Linked DNA regions of Homo sapiens. The protein of the gene in region 1 purifies or fractionates together with the protein of each later gene. This does not show direct contact. Each region holds a gene or a part of one and is shown on either strand. Other genes may lie near its edges.

Region 1 (4,776 bases):
TGTTATCGTCGTGGAGATGATTTCTCATTTGGGATAATATTTTTTAGTTTTCAATTATATTTTGTCAACATTTAAAAAGCAAAGTAAAGAATATTTCTTGGGCCAGGCATGTTGGCTGACGCATGTAATCCCAGCATTTTGGGAGGCTGACACAGGCAAATAACTTAAAGTGAGGAGTTCGATACCGGCCAGGTCACCGTAGTGATACCCCGTCTCTATGAAAAATACAAAAATTAACCGGGCATCGTGGCACGCGCCTGTAATGCCAGCTGCTCCCGAGGCTGAGGCAGGAGAATCGCTTGAACCCAGGAGGCAGAGGCTGCATTGAGTTGAGATCTCGCCACTGCACTCCAGCCTGGGCAACAGAAATACTGTGTCTCAATAATAGTAATAATAATAATAATAATAATAAAGTAATAGATCTCTTCCACAAATGTGCTGGGACAACTAACTGGATATCCACATGGAAAAGAGTAATGTTGGATCCCTATGTCACACCATCAAAAATTTTATTTAAAAAAGTTTTTTTTTTTTTTTTAAAAAGGGAAAAGGCCCGGGCGCGGTGGCTCACGCCTGTAATCCCAGCACTTTGGGAGGCCGACGTGGGCGGATCACCTGAGGTCGGGAGTTCAGCCTGGCTAACATGGTGAAACCCTGTCTCTACTAAATATACAAAATTAACTGGGCATGGTGGCGCATGCCTGTAGTCCCAGCTACTCGGGAGGCTGAGGCCGGAGTATCGCTTGAAACCAGGAGGCGGAAGTTCTAGTGAGCTGGGATCACTCCACGGCACTCCAGCCTGGGCGACGGAGTGAGACTCTGTCTCCAAAAAAAAAAAAAGGGAAAGAGAGAGAGAGAGACTAGGAAGGGAGACCTGCCGCAGTGGGTGTTACTTTGTCGCCCAGGCTGGCTTGGGACCCCAGGCTCAGCAATTCTCTCCGTTGCTTCCTGAGTAGCTGGGACCTGAGGCTCCCGCCCCCGCGCCTCTGCTGTGTTTAAGCAGCAGGTGGTGACCTCACTCCTTCCTGGCCTAAGCACTCCGTCCCGCACCCCTGGCGGTGGCTTTAAGGAAGTCTCTGAAGCTGAGCTCAGGGTGGACTCTCCCTCCCTAGTGAATGGAGATAGAAAGGGAGAGGACATCTATTCTGTTCCGTGGGCCGTCACCATGACATCGTACATGCCGCCCAGGCAGGGCTTTGCATTTCACATTCTAGTTTGCATCCCGGTTCCAGACAATTCCAGGGCTTTGGAATCATGCCTCAGACTTTCTGGCGCTCTCGCCTCCACAACCTAAAAACAGAGACGCTAGGAGAGAGGCTGAAAGACGCGCAAGTCCCGCCCCGGCCCCGCCCCGGCCCCGCCCTCTGCCGGTTCTAAAGGGCAAGGTCTCAGCGCCTCGCGCCCCGCCGCTACCTCGCCCAGGCCCCGCCCACCTCCTCCCACCTCCCGCCCAGGCCTGGCTTCCGTCCTGCGCGCGGAGATTAACGCAAACCCGGAAGCGGATCGGGTGGAGTGAAGGTCACGTCGCCATGGTGAGTTTTGCTCTGTGTTGCATTAAGTCTCCGCTTCCCAGGTCCCCGCCGCTTCTGTCCCTGGGACGTGGGGTCCCCACAGACCTGGAAATTCTCGCCCGTCTTCCTTCGCCCAGAGCAAATTGAGACAGCCCAGTGAGAGGCCGGGTGTCGCTTCCTTTCGGGTTTAAAGTCGTCTGGAGGCTGGTCCCGTCCCGGGTCTGTCTGCTATAGGGCAATGTATACACTTTCTATTGCGTAGTTTTTCTGCTCAAAACCTTCTTCTGACTCTTCCCTCCTCGCGCTATTTAAAGTCTTCACCCACGAGGTGGATTCTTGCCCGGGGCGCACCTCCCAGCCACCCCTCGTCGGCCCCTGGAGCGTCGCGCCGCAGCCCCAGTCCCAGGGAGGCCGCGTCCTCTGCCTGGTCCTGGGATCTTGCAGACCCCATCCTTCTCCCAAGGCGCCGTCCCCCCTCCTCCCACCTCCCTACTCGTGCCAGAGCCTGCGGCTCCCCAGGTCTCTCCTCCGCAGTCACCGCTTCCATTGAACCCACACTGGGAAGGACGCAGGGCCCTGTCCTGTGACATGGGGTCTTCTTGCCTGCCGAGCTCCAGCCCTTGGAAAACGCGCTCCTCCGGGATGCAGGCGTCTTACTCCAAACCCTCCTGCGATTGTGTGGGCCGAAGGGATCAGGAGACAGACAGCAGTAGAAAACCTGAGACAGAGAAAGAATAAGAAAGGCCCATAACAGATGGCAAAATAGAGGATTGGTGAGGGATATGCCAAGATATGGTGAAAGTGGAAAAAGAAAGCAACAAAATACCTAGAAAAGCAGGTGGAGAAAAGCAACTGGAGAAATGTAGAGAAAAGCTAGATGTACACAGAGATGAAGGACGGCAAGGTAGGGAGAGTGGCAGCAAAGAGGGAGGCTCATCAGAGTGAGGGAGAGAGGGAGGGATTTGGAGCCAGGGCAGACAGAGCAGAGTGGTGCTGGTGTCAAGGAGAACCGAGGGAGAAACACAGCAGGGAGGACACCTGGGGATCTGGGGTGACACAGAGTGGGGACAGGGGAGTATATCAGGGAAGAGAGAATTTAACAGGGAGAGCAGAGGAGGCGCAGAGATGGGTGAAGAGGCAGAAATAGATGGAGATTGAGGACGATTGAAAGATTGGGGAGAAGGAGCAATAAGAGGTTAAATAAGTTGCGAGGATGGAGCAGAAGAGATGGAAGAGAAGGAATAGAGGGAAGAAGGGGGATAAACAGCAGAAGAGAAGAGGGGTACAAAATGAAGAGCAGAATCCCAGGGAGAAAGAAAAGAAAACAAGAGCTAGAGAGAGAAGGGGGAGAATGAGAGATATGTACAGAATTAGGGAGGGAAGCGCAGTAATGAAGAAAGGGGGGCTAGGCACAGTGGCTCACGCCTGTAGTCTCCACACTTTAGGAGACTGAAGCAAGAGAATTGCTTGAGTCTAGGAGTTCGAGACCAGCCTGGGCAACATAGTGAGACCCCTATCTCTGCCAAAAAAAAAAAAAAGGAAATAACGGGGCATAATCGTGTGCACCTGTACTCCCAGCTGCTCTGGAGGTGGAGGTAGGAGGATGACTTGAGCTCAGGAGGTCCAGGCTGCAGTGAACTGAGATCATGCCACTACACTGCAGCCTGGTCAACAGAGCGAGATCTTGTCTCAAAAGAAAAAATGGGGCGAGAGACTGGGTTTAGATCAGTGGATGAGTTCATTGGATATGATTAGTTGTGACATGTTGACTTCCCTGTATATAATCTAATAACTAAAAACTTGTTTAAATTATACAGATTGAGAATTTTAAAATTGGTGTCTATAAAACATGTACATTCTATAAATCTTGGCATCAGAGGTTATGTTCCACTTGGAATCCCTATTCAACCAGAGGGAAGTGACTTATTCAGTTGTGAATCACTGTCTTCCCTTTTCCTAGGATTGGGAGGATGTGGGGTAGAGAAGTGGGAAAAAAGTCGCTGTCTGTTATTACATAATACTTTTAATTTAATTAATTAAATGATATTTTGAGTCAGGGTCTGGCTGTATCACACAGGCTGGAGTGCAGTGGCGTGATCCTCTAACTGTAGCCTCTACCTCTTGGACTCAAGTGATCCTCCTACCTCAGCCTTCTGAGTAGCTGGGACCAGAGGCATGAGCCACCAAGCCCAGCTAGTTTACATATATATATATATATATATTTTTTTTTTTTGTAGAAACGTGGTTTCACTATGTTTCCCAGGCTGTTCTCAAAACCCTGGGGTCAAAGGGTCCTCCTGCCTTGGCCTCCCAAATTACTGGGATTACAGGTGGGATTACAGGGATGGCCCACCGCGTCTGGCCTACATAGCCCCCCCCTTTTTTTTGAGAGGGAGTTTTGTTCTTTTTGCCCAGGCTAGCGTGCGATGGCATGATCTCAGCTCACCACAACCTCCGCTCCCTGGCTTCAAACAATTCTACTGCCTCACTCTCCAGAGTAGTTGGGAGTACAGGCATGCACCACCATGCCTGGCTAATTTTGTGTTTTTAGTAGAGACGAGGTTTCTTCATGTTGGTCCAGGCTGGTCTTTAACTCCCTACCTCAAGTGACCCGCTGCCTCGGCCTCCCAAAGTGCTGGGATTCCTGGCGTGAGCCACCACTCTCAACCCATAGTAGTTTTTAAAAGGGACATCAAGGCATGGTGGCTCACGCCTGTAATCCCAGCACGTTGGGAGACAGAGGTGGGTGGATCATGAGGTCAGGAGTTCAAGACCAGCCTGGCTGACACAGTGAAACTCAATCTCTACTAAAAAATACAAAAATTAGCCAGGCATGGTGGCAGATGCCTGTAATCCCAGCTACTCAGGAGGCTGAGGCAGGAGAATTACTTGAACCCGGGAAGCAGAGGTTGCAGTGAGCCGAGATTGCATCACTGCATGCCAGGCTGGGCAACGGAGCTAGACTCCATCTGACAAAAAAAAAGAGAGAAAGAAAAAGTAAGGAACATCAAAGTTGGGCCTGGTGGCTCATTCCTGTAATCCCAGCACTTTGGGAGCAAATCACTGAAGGCCAGGAGCTCGAGACCAACCTGGCCTACATGGTGAAACCCCGTCTCTACCAAAAATACAAAAATTAGCTGGCCATGTAGACATACGCCTCTAATTTCACCTACTCCGGAGGCTGAGGCAGGAGAATTACTTGGACCCGGCTGGGAGGCAGAGGTTGCAGTGAGCCATGATCACACTACTGCACTCCAGCCTGGGT
Region 2 (5,000 bases), on another chromosome or scaffold:
GACTGACAGCCTGACTGAATATAGCTAAATTGATTTCCTTGCCCTCCAAATCTATGTGACTGACAAGAACTTGAAGCATTTTGTGGCCTTCCACACCCACTTGAATTGCTATAACCACATGCATGACTTCGCCTCCCACTGTCTCCTGAACCTGAACAGCTAGACCCAAGCTTTTGTTCTCTAATTCTTGACTGAGTAGAGTTTGATTCATGCCCACTAGTCTCCAATCCACATGACAGACCACCATGACCTTTCCTTTCCCAACTGTTTGATCCAGATCCAGATTCATACTCCTCCCCAGATTCCCTAGAAGGGCTAATGTGTGACTTGTTTATTCTTTCTCTCAGTTCTACAGAGCTGGAACCATGTCTGTCTTTGCCACCACTCCATGAATGACCACAGCTGGACCTGTGGTATCTTTTCTGAGATCCCTCTTGGTTCCCAGAGCTGGATAAATTACCTTGTCTTCCTAGCCTCCTGGAGTTGGACCCATGTCTACATTTCACAGTTCCCCTTGAGTGCCCAGAACTATATCCATGCTCCTCTCCCTCACTCCAACTTGAATGTCTGTAACCTGATTTATGTCCTGGTGTATCCTCTTCATCCTCTTCTGTTTCACTTTCTTCTTCTTGGTGTCGGTGACCACGCCTATGCTTCTTTGACCCTGAAGCTTTGCAGTATTCTTTGCTGAGGACCTTGTTGCAGGCCATAGTCAGCTTGAATATCATCAAAAGAAACTCAGTAAAGTCCAATCTTCTGTCATGATCTCGATCCAGCATATGCATGATGACATCCACTGTGTCTGGATCATCTGGGTTCTGTATATGAGTGACACACCAAGGGAGACCTGGTCAGCCTAACCTGCATACTCAACTAACACATTTAAATAGCGCTGTGAAATTATGGATGTTTGACATGATGTAGTTTTAGTCCAATAAAGGATTACTTTAGGTTAATAGAACCCAGTAAATGTTAAGGGTTAATAGAAAATAAAGACTACTGGGATCCTCAGAAGAAGACATTTCAAGGATTTAGGCTAAAGGATTAAGTGCTTAGGTAAGGCCTACAGGAAGGAGTGGAATAAACTAAGTTCAGTAACTGGTATTTCTAAGTTTTACATAAATTGTAACTATTACATGTTAATATCTTCCATGTTGGAATTTATCATCTATTATTTTGAAGTTAATAACTGAGTCTTTTTTTTTTTTTTGAGATGGAGTCTTGCTCTGTAGCCCAGGCTGGAGTGCAGTGGTGCGATCTCTGCTCACTGCAAGCTCTGCCTCCCAGGTTCACGCCATTCTCCTGCCTCAGCCTCCCGAGTAGCTGGGACTACAGGGGCATGCAACCACGCCCGGCTAATTTTTTGTATTTTTAGTAGAGATGGGGTTTCACCGTATTAGCCAGGATGGTCTTGATCTCCTTACCTTGTGATTCACCCACTTCGGCCTCCCAAAGTGCTGGGATTACAGGCATGAGCCACCGCGCCTAGCTGAGTCCTTTTTAAGTAGATGGAATAAAATGCTGGCATTTTATTTTTGATTCTTAATCATGGCTATTTTGTCAACTCCCTATGTAGATGATTTCCCTTTCTATACTTTTTTTTCCATTTGATAGGATAATTTATTAATTCGTGTCCTAGTATAATTTTATTTTCTGCTTTTTCTAAGGAAAAGCCTGGGTGTATGAGAAAGTCTGAGAGTCTATGAGGTAGGAGTGCATAGGTGGAAAAGTGAGGACGAAACATTCACTTTCTTTAAAATATCTGCTGCTTTAACAGACTTTCTGGCATCCCCAAAATACCACTCATAGAGTTTGCTTAGAGTTCACTGGGGCTGTGCACTTTTTAGCTGATCTGGGTCATACAACAGAGCTTGTACAGGACTCCAGCAGCCTTCAGTTCTGGCACATGGCTCTCACCTTCAGAACTGGATGAAGCTCTTTCTCCAGAAGTTCCTTTAGTTCACCCTTGCTCAGTGTGCCACACTCCCCATCTTGCTTGGTGTATTTGTAGAAAACATCAATTACGGTGACAACACTTCTCAAGAGGTCGGTCATCTTTTTGCAAGTTTAAGTGAACCTGGACACAGAAAAACAAAGAACCCTATTATTCATATTCTCTCCTTTTATCAGCAATTTTCATTTTAATAATAACCAGCATGATTTTTTTAACCTCTTGTTTTTTAAATCTCAAAACGTAAGAATGGGCCAGGGATGATACAACCCCGTTTAACACAATGAAAATTAACTTTGTTAACTTTGAGTTACTTTTCTGTGATCAAGTCTTGGCATGTTACTGGTTCAACTGAGAATAGACCTCAAGTCTCTATATTTCCTGTCATGGGTAAGTATAGTCTCTACATAGTATCTCTACACTTTGAGTGTGTTGGCATTCTGGGTGTTGTTCTAAGGCTTCCAAAATTTCCAGAACCAGCCAGACACCATTGCCTCAATCTCTCTTTCTAGTTTCACTGCTTTTCTTGAGTCAAAAGTGACAGACCTTCCACCATGCACATCTGTTTATCCTCTGGGCACCAGAAGCTAAACTGGACCCTTAAGGCCTTCAGCAAATTAAAAATGGGCAAAGGGGCTCAAAATAGCTTGGTGTTTCATAGGCATGAGACAGTAGAACTCAGTAGAGCTTAGGAACTCTCTTAATGTCAAGCACTTGACCAAACACTGTTTTCTTTAATTAATCAAGAAGAAGAGCTCAGCAATGCAGGCAGCAGTTTAACTAGTGGATAATTAGATCTTGGAGCTCTGGGAACCAACACTGAATAAGGAAGGGACTCTGCAACAGACCCAGCTGCCTCCCAGTTTGAGCTGGACAGCCCAGAAAAGAGGGCATGGAAAAAGACTCGGAACAGACTGTGGAATGGCCTAGAGGAAGGTGAACTTTTACTTGCATTATTCTTCTCCATAAAAATGAACTTAACTACAAAAAGGCCCCAGAATAAACTAAACTAACCAAACAAATAAGCAAACAAAAAGAAAAGAAAATGAAAGAAAGAAACAAAAAAGAAAAGAAAGGCAAAATATACATGAACTCTGCCTTAGCTTATATCCCTAGACTTCTACTATGGACAACACCAAATATTCATAAATGTAGCTGGATGAATTTTCTCTCACCTGGTTCACCAAAGGAACAAGTAGGATAAAGCCTGATGCAGCTTGCAGGGTGACGATGGATTGGGATAATGACCCTTATATAGCTTATAGTGATTATAGTGAATGAGGTGATTCATTTTCCATCAAACCTAACTCCACCTCTACATATTTACCTTCCTCCTTCACATTGTTATCTACAGATGATTGCAGAAAGGCTAGTACCAGCCCCACCTTCCAGTACGAGGACATGGTTGCAAGATACCTTTTTTTTCAGGGTCATATACATGTGAAAAGCACAGACTTTGTTTTAGAGGACTCATGTTATACATTTCTTTTAACTAGTACCCACAGAAAGTAGCAGAGTGTAAGATACTTGGAAGGTGCACAATAAATGCTTATTTAATTGAAAATGAACCTGAGCCACTAGGTTCATCTAATTCATGTCTTTTTTGTAATAATAAAAAGTGACATTTATTGAGAATTTACTATGTGCTAAATACTTTAAACAAACCATCTCAATCTTTAAAAAATCTGCACTTTTAGTTATGGGTACATAGTTGTATATAATTGTTGGGTACATGTGATGTTTTGATATGGGCATACCATGTGTAATGATCAAATTACAGTAATTGGGGTATCCAGCACCTCAAGCATTTCTTTGTAGTAGGAACATTCTAATTCTACTATTTTAGTTATTTAAAAATATACAATAAATAGTTAACTATAGTTACCATATTATGTTACCAAATACTAGATCTTATCACCTCATTTAATCTTCACAACCTTCATACGAGATATGTATTTATTATCCCATTTTATAGAGACAGGTTCTGGAAGCATAAGGATCTTCTCCAAGGTCATAGCTAGTAGGCAGAGAAACCAGAAGTTGAACCTGTATCTACCTTATTGCAATTGCTGTTTACCATTATACTAACTTACCTCTGTGTATTTATCATATATAACTATCATGCAAAAATTATGCACCATTTTAGGAGTGTAAGGCCCACTCAAACGCAAATAATATAAAAAAGTAACATACAGAGTGCTGTTAGGAAGAGAGGAAACATTCTCTGACCTTGTGAAGGCTCATTTCTAGGCTAGAAAAGTGTAATTGGCTATATATAAAAATAATGTTTTCAGATATGTTCAGGGTGAATTTAGAGTGAGCTTTCTTCCAGCACTCTGCGATCCACTGGTAGTCTGGCATGTTTAGGGCCTGGACCCTTGGGAAAATGTTCACTTATGTACAGAAAGTATATCAAATACACTTGAGGGTAACAAAAATAATCAGAGAGCTGTAAGTCTTAAGCATGGAGAGCCAATTCTGCTGTACTTTGCTACCAGGTGATAATGATGATGATGAGGAGGATAGCAGCTACCATTAAGTGCTAAGTGCTTACTATCTTCTATACATGGTAGGTTTACATGCTTATCTATTTATTCCTCAAAATAACCCCATTTTATAGATAAGGTAATAAAAGCATAGAGCAATGTAAACATTTGTTACAAATCGCAGCTAGTTAGTAGCAGCACTAGAACAGATACACATGCTAGCCGATGCTAAAGCCTAGCACTTAACCATATATATTCTACATATATGGAGTCAATAAACTCCTATCTGGGCATTGCTTTGGGCCAGTCATCATATCTTATTCATTCCACCATCTAGGCAGCACCTAGAGCTTGGTAAACACTAAGAATGAGTGTCTGTTCATAAAATGTTAATGAATAGGCCCTTGAAATATGTCAATTGCTCACATAGCCAAGGAATCCTAGACCAAAACAACCACACAGAAAGTTATGGTTGCTGTTGGATACTATGGTCATTTTCAATCATATGCATCTTTTGGAAGTGCATTTTTGTTAAGATGGCTGCTGTGTCAGAAAGACTTTCA

The links. The genes of interacting proteins can lie anywhere in the genome.
Region 2: the proteins of ZNF808 (region 1) and FLG2 purify together in Homo sapiens (co-immunoprecipitation; one large-scale study listed by IntAct). This does not show direct contact.

The regions. Positions count from the first base shown.
Region 1 is NC_000019.10:52,526,180-52,530,955, forward strand, and holds the start of ZNF808 (zinc finger protein 808), read left to right. Parts: upstream 1-1,488; 5' UTR 1,489-1,532; exon of another isoform or gene 1,533-1,730; intron 1,731-4,776.
Region 2 is NC_000001.11:152,356,830-152,361,829, forward strand, and holds the start of FLG2 (filaggrin-2), read right to left. Parts: upstream 3,178-5,000; 5' UTR 3,127-3,177; intron 2,078-3,126; 5' UTR 2,056-2,077; coding exon 1,918-2,055; intron 819-1,917; coding exon 1-818. UniProt on the Homo sapiens protein: Essential for normal cell-cell adhesion in the cornified cell layers. Important for proper integrity and mechanical strength of the stratum corneum of the epidermis.